Regions from separate parts of the Homo sapiens genome. Here regions 1 and 3 are each linked to region 2. Evidence: fine-mapped expression QTL. A gene starts in region 2. Each other region holds a variant in brackets. All regions are shown on one strand. Distances are from middle to middle.

The links. PIP is the estimated chance that this variant, and not a neighbour inherited with it, causes the effect.
Region 1: its variant is the best candidate, but not a certain one, in a credible set for the expression of FBXL17 in anterior cingulate cortex (GTEx, PIP 0.55).
Region 3: its variant is the best candidate, but not a certain one, in a credible set for the expression of FBXL17 in whole blood (INTERVAL, PIP 0.80).

What each region holds. Positions count from the first base shown.
Region 1 is chr5:108,185,580-108,190,925 of GRCh38, reverse strand. FBXL17 (F-box and leucine rich repeat protein 17) reads left to right here. Exons shown (of 9, transcript NM_001163315.3): 6 at 4,679-4,809. Among named protein-coding and RNA genes, the nearest start is that of FBXL17, 190 kb to the left of the region's middle. The variant G/A (reference allele first, on the strand shown) is at 2,436.
Region 2 is chr5:108,380,134-108,385,133 of GRCh38, reverse strand. It overlaps FBXL17 (F-box and leucine rich repeat protein 17), which reads left to right and starts at 3,036. Exons shown (of 9, transcript NM_001163315.3): 1 at 3,036-4,435. The coding sequence starts at 3,443. RefSeq lists an enhancer at 2,666-2,785 and silencers at 2,886-3,135, 3,336-4,085, 4,106-4,185.
Region 3 is chr5:108,242,245-108,247,590 of GRCh38, reverse strand. The region is part of intron 4 of FBXL17 (F-box and leucine rich repeat protein 17); the gene reads left to right. Among named protein-coding and RNA genes, the nearest start is that of FBXL17, 140 kb to the left of the region's middle. The variant T/G (reference allele first, on the strand shown) is at 2,883.

The DNA.
Region 1 (5,346 bases), 190 kb after region 2:
CTCAAGGGCTGTCTGGTTCTTTTTACATGTTACAGAACAGTATATTTCCAACAGTGATAAAAACTTTTTGGGTGTGGAGATCAAAAACGCCCTATAAAGAAAGCTAGCTGTAAAGACAATGTGGTTTAAAAAAATGGTGATTTTTAGGTAGAAAATAGAAGTGTGGGGGACAGTAATATGAGGATTATCAAATTTAAGAGTGACTCAGATCCTTGACACATACAAATTCATCTTTGCTCAATCAAAAACAAGAGAACTTGACCAGTGAAACCATTTTATCCACCTATCTAGCCCTAATGCAAAATCTTGTGAAAAATAAAACTTTAGGGAACATAAAAAGACAGTTAACCTGTGTTAAGATATATATGGAAGCATGTGACTATTGACAAGTATGAATTGAGTAAAAGCCAGAAGCTGTGCAAGTATTTTCATAAAGTGTTTCCATTAAACCCATCTTCCCATGAGTAAGGGTTGGTTTAAGAAATTTAGGAAGACCTCCCCACTTTCTAGATATCTCTGTCTGTCTCTGTCTCAGACTCTCTGTCTCTCTCTATTTCTCTTTCTTCTGACAAGAGTGGCCACATCAAAACTGACTGTTTTCTAGGAAGTATTTTCTTGGAAGCTGAAGACAAGCCTAGAGGAGAAGACTGAATGGACTAAGCCTCTCACTCTGTGCTTTTGTGAGCATAAGTATCTGAAGAGGGACAGAGAGCTTCAGCATTTAAAGTGGGCAAGGATATTCCCCTTGTCTTGAGTGAAGCCTGGCTTTTCTTCAGCAATACAACGTCACCGCAGCCCTCCTGCATTTGTTTTCTACTGATACACAACAAATTACTACAAGTTTAGCAGCTTAAAACAATGTACATTTATCATCTCACTAGTTCTGTGGGTCAGAAGACCAGACAGACATAGCTTAGCTGTGTCCTCTGCCTGGGGTTTCACAAGGCAATCAAGATCTCAACTGGGGCTGTATTTCTTTCTAAAGCTCAAGTCTTCTTACAAGCTCATGTAGTGGCTTGAAGAATTCAGTTCCTCGTGGTTGTAGAACTAACACCCTTATTTTCTTGCTGGCCCTCAGCCAGTGGCCAATCCCCAGAAGGCTCTCATAGTCTTTTTCACAGCACAGTTGCTTAGTTCTTCAGGACCAAGCAGGATAATTTCTCAGACCTCTAGATCCTTTGTAAGGGCTTAACTGATTATGTCAGGCCCACCTAGGATACTTTCCCTTTTGATTCATTCAGTGTCAACTAATCAGGAACCATAATTATAGCTGCTAAATCTCTTTGCTGTGTAAGGAGAATTTCCATCCTAATCGTGGGTCCTGTCCACACTCAAGGGGGCAGGGATTATGATAGAGCATAGGCCATTGGGATCATCTTAGAATTTTGCCTACCATACCTGTTTATTTTCTCACTGTGTTTCTCTCAGGGTCAGGAGGTGGGGGCAAAGATCCTCTTTGCTCTGCATAGCTGCTTTCAGACTATTATTTTCCGTCCTCTCATGAAAAATAACAACAAAAAAACACTGAGTCTGAGACTTGTGCTTTTTTTCTTACCATTGTCTCTTTCATTTTATTGCCATCCCATCCCATCCCATCCCATCCCATCCCATCCCATCCCATCCCATCCCATCCCATCCTATGAATTCTTCCAGCAACTACATGAGCTTGTAAGAGAACTTCAGCTCTAGAAAGAAATACAGCCCCAGTTGAGATCTTGATTGCCTTGCGAAACCCTAGGCAGAGGACACAGCTAAGCCATGTCTGGTCTCCTGACCCACAGAACTAGTGAGTTGATAAATGTACATAGCCATCTATCCTTCTGGTGTCTCCTGTTCATAAAAGATGTTGGCCTTCCATTTTGCTCCAAGCCCAGCCATGACTGTGGGTGATTTCAATTTCTGTGCCCACCACATGCAGATCACATATTGGAAAGGAAGAAAGCACAGCAAAGAGCGTTCATATCAGCCCTTTGTTCCCTTAGGTGAATTCTAGTGAGGTCAGAAAAGTTATAGAAACTTATTTGCTATTTATTTTGTATTTTATTTGTCTGTCTTTTTTATGTACCTTTAGATACTTAAAAAAAAAGCTACAATGAGAGGTAAGATATAGGAAACAGGCGCTATGTTTGCAGCAGAACTTTAGAGCCCAAACAGCTCACCTTTGAGCCCTGGGCTTAGTATTGATTATAATTATTTCAGTAAGGTGAACCTTGAGGAAGGGGAAACTGAGGGAGTTGACCAAGGTTCTGACTGGTCAGTTGCCTGAAGCTGCTGAGACAGCCAGAAAGGTCTGTTTTAACAAGAATGAGTCCGTTCCTGTGTGCTTTGGTTGCCAAGTACCAGTTATGTTCTGATGTTGCTAAAACCCTTAACCTGTGGTTATTGAATAGGAACTTTGTAAGAACCCATTTCTTTGCTTGACCTGCCTCTGTTCT[G/A]GAGCATCATTTTGCTGAGTCCCATACTAGACTGGACGTGACTTCCTTGAACATCTTACCTGATAAGCCAATTGCAGAGAGCTTTTCCTGAAGCTCTGCCTTTACTAATGCCTACAACCTAGCCCTTAGAAGAAGCTGGTACATACACTTTCTGTCTCAGTTAGAAAGAATTTACCTGCTGTTGTGGACCTTTTTGTGTTTTATCTGTCGCAGCTATCTCTATTTATCTCCATAGTTGGGCAGCATGCTTCAGAGAGCATTGAGTAGTGACTCTATGAACTCTCTCTGTATAGCTTCTCCCATTGGGAGCTGAGGTGGAAAGAGTGTGAGTACTGCCTGGCAATTTACCTCCTACCCTCCCAATGACCATTCTTTTGAGCTGTCCTGTCCACCAACACTGTAGCTGTTAGCCACATGCAGATATAAAAATTAAATACAAATTAATTAAAATTAAATAAAATTAAAAGTTCAGGTCCCCTGTCACACTGGTCACATTTTAGGTGCTCAGTAGGTACAAGTGATTAGTGATTACTATATCAGACAGCAGAAATATAGAACATTTTCATTGGAGATTCAAGTGTCTAGTCTTCTCTTGGAGTTTAAGCTGAACTGACTTAAATTCTCACATGCTTAGCAACTTAAAACAGTACCAGTTTATTATTTCACTATTCTGTAAGTTAGAAGCCTGTCTGACACAGGTCTCACCAGGCTAAATTCAAGGTGTCAGCTGGATTGTGTTTCTGAAGGGAGCATCTGTTTTCTTGCTCACTCCTACAGGTTTTTTGGCAGAATTAAATTCCTTAAGGTTGTAAGTCTGAGGTCCTTATCTCTTCCCGGCTGGCAGCTGAGGGCTGTTTCCAACTCTAAAGCTGCCCATGTTCCTTGACTCCTGGCCCCTTCCTCAATATTTGAAGCTAGTAAAGGTAGCTTGAATCCCTTTCATGATTGAAACATCTCCTGTTATCTTCCATTTCATCTCTCTGGCTTTCTCTGAGTAAGCCTGTGCTTATAAGGGTCTCCAGTGATTACACTGGGACTACTCAGATAACCTGGGATAATCTCCCCATCTTGAGATCCATACCTTTAATCACATCTGCAAAATCCCCTTTGCCTTATAAGGTAACATATTAGAGCATAGGTATCTTTGGTGGGAGGGGTATTTGTGTTATTTGGTCTATCATATGCCTCCAGATTAAGTTTTGCATATTATTAAGCAAAAATAGCTTAATATTTGAAAAGGTAGCTTATTTGAAGAGGATAATTAAGATCCTACCACCTTTATGTAAATATTATCATTAATTTGCTTTAGAGGCTAAACATCAGCGGAAGACAAGAAACTTAAAGAAATAGAAAATGAAAACATGGAGAAGGTGGAACCTGGAGAAATTTTTGCTTCTTAAGCCACATTTTATATCATTTTATGATGAAACACATACCCATAATAGTACAGTTTGGAGTACATTGATAATATATCACCAAGCTATCTCTGAATTAACCATTTAGTCATATTTCATCTTTAAAAAAATAAAAAAATCTATACAGAAATGGCATAATTATGAAGGTAATATCTGAAATTGAACAATGTTAGAATAATCTTCTCAAATTGTAGGTACTTAATGTAATATATTCAATACCTTGCCTACCTATTAGACAATAGATTGCTAACTTGATTTTTAGGATACTTAAGTAAAATCTACTTTCTTTTTTTTTTTTTTCTTTTTTTGATACGCAGTCTCACTCTGTTGCCAGGCTGGAGTGCAGTGATGCGATCTGGGCTCACTGCAACCTCTGCCTCCCGGGTTCAAGAATTCCCCTGCCTCAGCCTCCCAAGTAGCTGGGATTACAGGGATGCACCACTACGCCCAGCTAATTTTTTGTATTTTAGTAGAGATGGGGTTTCACCATGTTGGCCAAGATGGTCTTGATCTCCTTACCTCGTGATCCACCCGCCTCAGCTTCCCAAAGTGCTGGGATTACAGATGTGAGCCACCGCGCCTGGCCAAATCTACTTTCTTTTAATGTTTGTTGCCATTCAGATATTCACCATAGATTTCTATACTACACTCATGCTTAATTTAGTGTATAAAATATTACATATACAATATCTTTAATTAAAAGATTCTAGCCTATCTGTTTTAAATATTTTACAGTGATACTCTACCTTGTAATAAACTACATTTGTAAGTTTTGAGAGTGAATGTAGCATTTACCTTTTTCATCTTTCATTTTATTTATCTCATTAGCTAAGAAACCTTTCCAGCTTGGACCTACGTCATATCACTGAACTGGATAATGAAACCGTGATGGAAATTGTCAAGAGGTGCAAAAATCTTAGCTCTCTCAATCTCTGTCTGAACTGGATCATAAATGACAGGTAACCATTGTAACATGTTAAAAATACTTTTCTAGAGGAAAACATTTAGGAAATATTAATTATTATAACAAGGCATGTCTATAACTAAAATTGAATACAGCTGTGCCTTTTCAAATTGTTATGTTTAAGTTTTGAAAACCATCTAGATCTATACTTTTAATGCATCTGTTGCTTATAAGTGCAGCAAAGTTTTTAGGTGCTTTAATACAAATATTTGCCTCAACAATTGTAACAATAGTAGGCTGTTGAATTTTTTCTTTGTTATCCATCTAAGACATACCTGCTTTTTGCCATGCTTGTAAGTTTGTAATGATATATTATTTGTCACTTTAACATTTTTGCAACATTTGTGGTTGATTTTAATGATTTGGAGAAACCATCTGAAACATTAACATTTAAACCCTTTCTTAAAGGTGACATTTTTTTTTCAGAGATGGAGTCTCACAGTGTTTCCTAGGTACAATTCCTGGGCTCAAGCAATACTTCTGCCTCAGCCTCCCAAGCAGCTGGGACTACAGGCATACACCACTGCGCCTA
Region 2 (5,000 bases):
AACCAGAATGTTTGGTCATTTTTGTGGTTTAGAGACTGTTCTTGTATTTGCTGTGTTCAGACATGATTGTGGAGGGGTCTTATTTTTGTCTTGCCTATTGTAGTCATAAAATGACTATAACTGATGTTGATGTTTTGTGGGACTGTTTATATTTGACAAAACAATGAGAACTGAGAATGCCAGGACAGCTGCCAGTACCACAAATGCCTAGCTAATAGTGCCAGTCCAGCTCCTGGCTGTCCGGAGTTGGTTTCCACTGCAACTCCACCCTCTCTGCCCCCCAACTAGCAAAGCCATCAGCTGCTACAACTGTCTCTATAATTCTAATTTATGACTCTTATTCATAATTCTGTATCTTTAACATTTACAACATTAGTATTATTATTTAGGGTACTGAGTTCCAAAACTCATTACAGCTCTCCTGATAATAGTAGTAGCTTATTTAATCACTGATGAACTATACAAGACTCTCTCTGCTATTTGCTGTGGTAAAGAAATAAAAAGAAGGGTTAGAGATAATCCTAAGCCTCAAAGAATCTGAAATTTTTTCTGGGGAGAACTAGTGGTGTGATGATGGTGGGTGATGAGAACAGACATGCAAAATATCTAAATTATAAAAAAACAAGTATCTTTTGTCAGCACAGAGTCCAATAGGTAGACCAAAGACAATTTGCTTGTGGTTGAATGGTTTAGGAACTGGGAGTAAGGAAACAAATATTGTAAATTTTAGCAACGACTTCAGAACTCTCAGAGTCAGTTGCTTCATCTCTAAAAACAAGAAGTTGAAGTTGGATGGTATGTGTAGTTCTGATACATTTGCATGGTGCCAGGCTGTCTGTACAGGAATCACATAGGGAGCCTGTTACCAGGTAGCGATTCGAGGGCCCCGTATCCAGAAAGCATAAAACATCCTAACTTTTTGAGATTCATCCATGCTTTTTCTCTTGTGTTGCTGAGTAGTATTTAATTAGATGAATATATCAGTTTATTAATCCGTTCTCCCACTGATGGACATCTGGGCAGTTTATAGTTTTTGGTGACCATGAATAAAGTTGTTACGGACATTTTTGTACATGTCTTTTTATCGATATATGCTTTTATTTCTCTGGATAAATACCTAGATGTGGGATTGCTGGCTCATAGGGAAGATGTGTATTTAACTTATATGAAATGTATAGGTCGCAATTTTTTTTAAGAGACTGTGTTTCGCTACGCTGCTCAAGATGGACTACGGTGGCTATTCACATGCATAATCATAACAAGCTGGGCTTAAGCGATCCTCACGCCTCACCAGCCCTGTTGTAGTTTGAATGATAGGTACCACCACATCTGGCTCTGACAGGTTCATATTTTTGACATAAAGTTACAAAACACTTTATAATACTCTTGCCTTTTGTGAAAGTGCAGCCTAGTAGAGATGTCAAAGGATCTGTAATAAGTCCTCAAGCACTGCTCTGGGGCCCTGGAAGATTCTCCTACAGGCAAATGGATGAAAGTTATGTGGATTATATGTGTACGTAAATGTCGTTCAGGCAATGCATTTGATAGTGAATAGCGTGTATGTCTGTGAAATCTTTTGACAAATATTTGCTTCTAGAATTCCACATAACTGTCATTAGGCTCTGAAAGGATCCCTGAATGTGACAGACTTAAGATTGGTCATTTCTGACAAAAAGGCCAGAATTAACAATTGTTTGACAGCATGTTTGAGAGCAGGCTGGGTGGGGCTGGCCACTATAGTGGGAATAGCAATGTAGGTTCCAACAGTGGTCTTCTCCAAGCCACTGGGCCTTGAATATTGCAATACTTCTTCCTCAGTCAGCTCTCTCAAGTTATCCTTAGCAGATTTTTTTTTAAACACCTGCCACTTCTCTTCCACCCTTCAGCAGGTAACCAAGCTCTATCTGAAGCAAAACAGAAACCAACAGAAAGGAACTCTTTCACCTTCCTGCTAGAAACATCCACCTCTCTGTATCCGTCCTTTATCTACCTTTCCTCATTCTCTGTAATCACAATGAAGAAAGTATCCTTCCTAAAGCACTCTCCATTCCACCTTCTCCTCTTATTTCTCTCACTAGAGTGGCTCATTCCCATGGTATTTGCCTCCTCTAATTTTTCGCTTGTGAAAGCTAACCTCTCCGCACCAGGTACCGCTCTAGCAGCTGCCCTAGCTCTTTAGCCTCGATATAGTCAAACCTTCTAAAGGACTGCCTGCATAGCTGTTTCCTCTTTCTCATCTGGATCACCAACGTTTGTCATATAGCAGGCACTGCACCGTCATGTTTAAAATATACAACAGACGGCTAGACAGGATTCCGAGGGTGTAGACAATAAAGTGATCTACAGTTTGTAGCCTGGGTGTTGAATGGCTCACTGGGTGGGGAAGCTGTTATCTTTCTGCTGTGCACAGGTAATTTGATATATGCTTTCATTCTGAAATAAAGTTGTGGAAAGGCAGTAGTACGCAACAATTAAGAAAACACAAGTGGGTAAACAGTGGTGCCGCACAACCAATCAACCCCTCACATGACTTCGGTGCGCATCACCCAGGGGCCGCATCTGCCACTCTGCCCGAAGCGCGGTCAGCGCCCACACTGGCCCTTCCGGCGGAACCCGCCTCGCGGCTTCGAAGTGGCCTCGGTTTCCGAGTCAGGGGTGGTGACAGGGGTGGAAGGTGAGGGGAAGAGCCCAGCGGCTCCCGGCCAATGGCAGCTCTTGAACTTACACCTCGAGACGTCAGCGCGGCTGTGTAAACGGATGTCACACAGCTGGCTCGGAAGTGTCTCCTCCCGCCTCAGAAACGCGGCGCACGCCCAGCAGCTTCGGAAAAACCTTAGGCGGTGGGAGGGAGGGGCGTGCGCCGCACCCCGCAAGCCCAGAGCTCCGTGCCCTAGCCGGCCGGCTTCTTCCCGTAGTGCCGGTGTGACGGCCGTCCCGGGTGAGCAGCCGGGTGCCGGCGTCCCCGCCACGAGCGCGCCACCGCAACTGGCTCCGCCCCCTGCCGGAACGGGCCGCGCGCTCCTGCGGCTCCGAGCAGAGTCGCGGGTGCGCGCGCCGGCGGCGGATCCGCAGTTAAAATGGTCCGAGCGGGACCCGGCCTTTCCCCGGCCGCTCCGCTGACTGACTGAGCCGGCTGGCCGGGCCCGGACTGGTCGCCTAGCCGGCAGGCTCGCTCGCTCCCTCCCTCGCGTCCCCAAAGCTCGCGCCCATCGTTCTCCCGGCTTCCCTGGGCAAAGCATGTAGCCCCCGTCGGGCACTCCGGCGGCCCGCAGCTGACGCCCACCCCCCACCGTCGCGTGTGTGCCCGTGTGTGCGTGTGTGTGCGCAGGAAGGGCGACCCCTCCGGGGGCCGAGCCAGCGAGCGGCCTGCCCCGCTGCCGGGAGCCCGCCTCTCTGGGTCTCCCTCCCTCCCGTCCCGGTCCCCCTCCTCGGGGCCTTCTATATGGGCCACCTTCTCTCGAAGGAGCCGCGTAACCGCCCGAGCCAGAAGAGGCCTCGCTGTTGCAGTTGGTGCCGCCGCCGGCGCCCTCTCCTCAGGCTGCCCCGCCGGACCCCAGCCAAGGTGCCCCCTCAGCCGGCGGCGCCCCGGAGCCGGGACTGCTTCTTCCGCGGGCCCTGCATGCTCTGCTTCATCGTGCACAGTCCCGGCGCGCCCGCCCCCGCCGGCCCAGAGGAGGAGCCGCCGCTCTCGCCGCCGCCGCGGGACGGGGCCTACGCTGCCGCCTCCTCCTCTCAGCACCTGGCGCGGCGCTACGCGGCCCTGGCCGCCGAGGACTGCGCCGCTGCTGCCCGCCGCTTCCTGCTATCCTCGGCCGCCGCCGCCGCCGCCGCTGCCGCCTCGGCTTCGTCGCCCGCCTCCTGCTGCAAAGAGTTGGGGCTGGCTGCGGCCGCCGCCTGGGAGCAGCAGGGCCGAAGTCTCTTCCTGGCCAGCTTGGGGCCGGTGCGCTTCCTGGGGCCGCCCGCCGCCGTGCAGCTCTTCCGGGGGCCGACACCGTCACCGGCCGAGCTCCCTACGCCCCCCGAAATGGTGTGCAAGCGGAAGGGGGCCGGGGTCCCCGCCTGCACCCCCTGCAAGCAGCCCCGCTGCGGCGGCGGGGGCTGCGGCGGCGGCGGCGGCGGCGGTGGCGGGGGAGGGCCTGCGGGGGGAGGCGCTTCGCCGCCCCGGCCCCCCGACGCCGGCTGCTGCCAGGCCCCGGAGCAGCCCCCGCAGCCGCTCTGCCCTCCGCCCTCTTCTCCCACCTCCGAAGGTGCCCCCACCGAAGCTGGCGGGGACGCTGTCCGAGCCGGGGGCACCGCCCCCTTGTCCGCCCAGCAGCAGCATGAATGTGGCGACGCGGACTGTCGGGAGTCCCCCGAAAACCCCTGCGACTGTCACAGGGAGCCGCCCCCCGAAACCCCAGACATCAACCAGCTGCCGCCGTCCATCCTGCTCAAGGTGGGTCTGGGCGAGAGGCGCAGGGATGCTCGCTTTCCCCCACCCCCGGCCCCCGCCTCCGAGGCTTTCTCTCTCCTCCCCCTAAGCGCGGAGGAGGGGGGTTCCCTGGCAGCCTAGGGACGTCCCAAGGGGAGACTGGGAAGCCAGTGGGGCCTCTGCCTATGGCCTATTTTTTGAAGTAGGAGCACTTGGAGTCTACTGAATGTCTTTTAATAGCTTGACTCTATAACCCACCATTCAGGGTTCAGCTATTATTAGAATCCCAACCCAGTGGTTTAGAAACTTCGCAGGTATTCTGTGGAAAAAAAAATTTTTTAATCGAGGAATTTATACTTAGTGGGTAAAGGCTTTGCATGTTGGTGTTTGAAAGTCTTTAAACATTACTTTCATGTTTGATGGCTGGTAGTTAATGTCAAACGGTTAACTTACTGAGCATTTACCATAATCAGGCACTGCGCCAGACTTTATATATATAATATCCCATTTATCTAGTTAACGCTTCGAGATAAATACTGTTAATATCTTTATTTTATACAGGAAGAAACTGATTTCTCCGTGCTGTGGG
Region 3 (5,346 bases), 140 kb after region 2:
AAAAGGAATCTGAAAAAAGTTATGTCTTAACAATGATACCTTACATTTTTAGGAGAATGACCTTATTTATGAGAAAGCCTTAGCCTAATAATCTAATTTCCATTTTACAGATAATAAAACTGAGATACAGAAGGTTAAATAATGTGACCAACTGTTAATAGTGCTGTCTAGGGCAAAGCCAGAATTTGATACCTGCACTTTTTTATTCTCTCATATACTTTGTACATTCACATCTCTGGGCCCTTGTCCCTATTTTTTTTTTCTTTACAATGGTCCCTACCTCATTTCCATCTCTGGAATTATCTTTGGAAAGGCTCTCCTTTTGTATCCTCTATCTTCGTTTTATGTAGAACCAAATGGGAATCCAAATACATAAAACCAATTGCTTTCTCTTCTTCGAAGCCAGGGCAATTTTTACATAATCGTTTTAGCATTTATCTCATGTTATTGTGGATACTTGTGCACATTATCCCACCATCACTACCATTGCAAACACAGATATACTAGACAGGGCCTTTATTTTTTTGAAAGTGTGCATTACTATGTAGTTGGTGGTGAACATTTGTGAATTGAATTACATTTAATATTTACTCCCAGTCAGGCCCTCATTTCACTCATGTATACTCTGAATATAGTGAATTCCACAATATTAGGTAAGTACAAATTACCTAATATTTCAAGAGACTGAGTCTCCTCAACAAAACTAATCCAAATACATCATTGAGCAAATATATGCTTTTCTTGATGATTTTGTTTCTTAAATGAAATTCTGAAAATTTAGGTATTTCCTCCAGATTAACATATAATCTTTTCTATCTTTTGCCAAATTAACTGATTTAAAGCAATTTTACCAAGTTTATATTATGTGAATTCTTTACTTGCATTATCCTTGTTAATCCTTACAACTCAATGGGAGATGCCCTATGGCAATTCTGTTTACGAGATTATTAGAGTTAGCAGAGGTTAAGTATGTGACTGTTGGGTTGTGAAATGATTGATTCAAATCCAGTCCTTTTGACTCTGGATGCAAGTCTTAACCATCTGAAGTTGTAGAAACTGTTGTCTGCCCTTTTTTTATTTTTTTGAGACAGGGTCAGCTAGGGTGGAGTGCAGTGGCATGATCATGGCTTACTGCAACCTCAACCTCCTGGGCTCAAGTGATCCTTCCACCTCAGACTCCCAAGCACCTGGAACTACAGGTGTGCACAACCGTGCCCAGCTTGCTTGCTTGCCTGCTTATTTACTTATTTACTTTTGAGACAGGGTTTCACTATTTTGCCCAGGCTGGTCTTGAACTCCAAGGCTCAAGTGATCCTCCCACCTTGGCCTCCCAAAGTGTTGGGATAACAGGTGTGAGTCACCATGCCCAGCCTCTAGTGCTTGACAGTTTCTAATGTGTATCTTTTGAAATTATGAGGAGGGGGGAGAGATTTGTGCTGGGAGAGTAAAGAAGGACTCTAGGTATATGGCACCTCTTCCTTGTCCAACCTCTTGTACTTGATTTTAATTCCTGTAGTTAGAGGAAAAGGGCCAGAAACTGAAGAAACTGTGTGGGAGAGACAGACATTGTGAGGCACTGAGGTCCAAATCAAAGCACTGGATTGATTTAACTCATTCATGTATTCAATAAATATTTATTGAGTACTTACTGTCAGTCAGGCCCTGTGCTACTTACATATGTTAACTTGGACTTGGGTAGAAGAGTTATCATGAAAATACCCCAAAACTTCCTTTGACCCCTCCAGTTGGAGAGATGAGTATATGTCTTGATGTTGTACAATGTGAGCTCTGCCCTTTCTGACCTTCTAATTTAAAAAAGTTAAACAGATTTGTATAAAAGACTTCTTTTTTTCCTCTCTGCCAAAAGTGACAAAGAAAATGTCTTCTGTGCTTTCCTGTTACTAGCATGGTTTTCTTTGTAGAGTTTAAGTGTTTATGCCAAGGGGACTGAGTTACGATGGATGGTGGATTCTCCATCTTACTTCCCATTATTGGAGAACCTTATTTAAAGGAGGTGGGATTTTATAAGCTGTTTGAAGTGTAAGAAAGAACATTTAGTGAGCTGTGAATTTATTTGTCTGACATGATGAAAAATGTATAACCTAATTTTAGATTTTGTTTTTTGATGATCGGTTTTCTTGTTTAAGGAATGTTAACATGAATATGTAAGAAATGTTCTATATTCATACATCAGGGTGTTTGTTTTTTTTTAACAAGTAATTATTGTCTTCCATTTATGATTAAAATACAGATTATTAGGGCTTTATACCTTGGTTAGATTTTATTCATCTTGGGAAGCATTTTCTCCTGTTAAAATATTAAAGTCTAGTCTGAAATATTTTCACAAACACAGGTGACTTTTTGAAGGTCGTGCTCTTGCTTCTGTGCATTTTCTTTTTGCATATTATACATCAGACTTCCAGGGATGGGTATGTTCTTTGTTGTTATGGAATATTATACATTTAAATCAAGTCTATTCATATCTATATGAGTTAAATACCTTAGTGGAAACCTTCCTGATATATTTCCTTTACAAATAAGAAACTTCACTATTTTGCTTATTACTCAAGATTTTATATCTTTAAGACCATTACAAAGCCTAATTTTGAGTATATACACATTGTTCTGCTTTCCAGAGACTTTAACAACAGTAGAATATGCTGCCATATTCAAGTATCAAACAGTTATTTGGATACTTTCAAAAATTACCTATAATTTTAAATATATTGCAAAATACAGGTAAACCTGTTATATACAGTTAAACTTGTTACTGATATTTTACTAACTGGAAGTTTTGTTTAACTTGCACTTTTTCCCCCTGATGTATAACTTCAGCCTCATGAATAAATATAGAATAGGACAGTTTATGTATTGTTGTCATT[T/G]CTGTTTCTAATGGTTTGGAGAGTAGGTGCAACATGTCATAATGGAGATTTTCATTAAGTGATTTCTATTTTATCAAGTACAATGATATAAATAAGTTAGTGCCCAGTAGTGTTCAAAATGTCAGCTCCATGTAGATAGAGAAAGGAAGTGTTTGTACATTGAATAGTGGGTAGCCCTTGTTAAGCGCATTGTATAGTATACGCATGGCATGCAGGTCTTCTGAAGGAATTGTCACAAGAACCCCCTTAGGTTGGTATCTCATTTTCACACTTTTCAGATAATAACTTCCTTAAGGTCACGTAGCTAGTAAGAAGTGGAGCTGGATTGCAACCTAGACACACATTCCAGTAATTTCATAGGGTTATATAAACTTAAATTTCCTTTTGAGATAAATAAAAGTTTAATATTACTGATTTTAAATTAATATAAGAATTATACTTAAAATGCTTCCATATTATGACCAGCCAGTTAAGAAAGGATATGAGAATGGGCAAAAGGATTCAGAAGAAATATGAGGAAAAGAGAACTAGTAAATGGAGGTAGAGTGACAGATGGAAATGGAGAAAAGGTGTGAGGACAACAAATGGCATGGAGAAGAAAAGGTATTCAGGAAGAGGCTGAAGAATAAAAACACAGAAAGCAAAGTTACATAGGTAGGAAAAGAACCATAGACAGTTCGAAAGTCTAAATACATTGCCTTTATCATAGCTGGCTTTTCCCTGGTTTTGTGAATTTTAGCATGCCTTTTGAAATACTAACTAGCTCTGCCACTGCTCAGAGCTCTTCCACTGTTCTTTATATGTTACCCTTCTGAGACTTAAGTTCATCTCATCCTTTATGATTAGAGGATTCAGAATTCAAATTGTATATACTATTTCTGGTTTTTCTATTTTTGTATATAACACATGATATAGCCACACAATCAACTTTTGGTAAGTGATCTGTATGGTAGATTTAATTTAGCCTTCAGTAATACTCTTGTACATTTCTTTTTTAGTCTTTAACCGTATCTGTTAATTTAAATATCTTATTTAGAAATGAAATACAGTTTGACAAAACGGAAGAAGGTTTCTTTACTTTCAGAGAGTTAAAACACTTAACCAAATGATTAATTGTTTTTTGATGAAATACCTACTAGGCTCACGTATAATCTTGGGAAGATTACTTTAACTTCTCTCTTTCTTCATTTGTAAAACAGAAATTGCACCTGCCTGTTGATCTCAGTGAGCTACTGTACAAATGTGTATGTGTGTGACAAAAAGTGCTTTCTAAACATTACTGCTATACACACCTATGGCTGTTACATTAGTAGATTACTTTTTGAATTACCTTTTTCATTAATTAAAGATGGAACAGTCAGAGAATAAGCTGTTTCATTTGGATTATCTCAATATTAAATTGCAATAAATAAAAGCAATATTAGTCAAAGAAATTTGGTCAGCAAATTGAAGGAAAGTGGTTAGGTCGTATTTAACTTATCATAGGTCTTTTTAATAGGGACAGATCTCTGTGTCATTAGTTGTAGACCAATGTCTTTCTCTTTCACAATACTTTAACACATAACTTATCAATCTCTTTTTATCAGCCAATCTGACTTTTCCAAATCCAGCCTAGCACTAAGCAAGATAGAATGAACAAAAATCAGGGAAGTTCAAATAAACAATCGAATTATCAGATTCTCGTTGGATGCTAATAGAGTTTTAAATAGTTAGAAAATGATTAGCTATGAATTCCAAAGCCCTTGTTGACAAAGGGTCAGTTTTTATAAAGCTGTGGTAAAATTTTAATGAGATTTAAAAATCATTCAGTGTATTATTAGCTACATAAAACTATTCTTAGTTCCTTTTTCATAAGTTTCACATGAACATTTTTGCTGAATTTTTTTAGATATAATAATGGTATTATGGTTATGATTTTTAAAGAGACTTATCTTTTATAGATATATTAAAATACTTAAATGTGTTTTGGAAGTAGATGAAGCTGACCATGAAACAAAGTGAGCCATGAATTCGTAACTGTTGAAGCTAAAAGACTGTTAAATGGAGGTTTATTTCACTATTTTTGTCAACTTTCATTTTTTGTTTTTGAAATTTCTTATAATTAAAAGCTAAAATATTTCACTGCTTTGTGCTTCTAGTTTGCTTGATGAAATAATTACATAGGACTAATTTAAAGTCAGAGTTATAGGCCAGACACAGTGGCTTACACCTATAATCCGAGCACTTTTGGAGGCTGAGGTGGGAGGGTTGCTTGAGATTAGGACTTTGACACCAACCTGGGCAACATATCAAAAACTCATCCCTACAATGACAACAACAACAACAACAACAACAACAACAACAACAACAACAACAACAAACTAGCCAGGCATGGTGGCACCTGCCTTTAGTCCTAGCTGCTTGGGAGGCTGAGGCAGGAGGATTGCTGGAGTCTAGGAGTTCCAGGTTACAATGAGCTATTTCT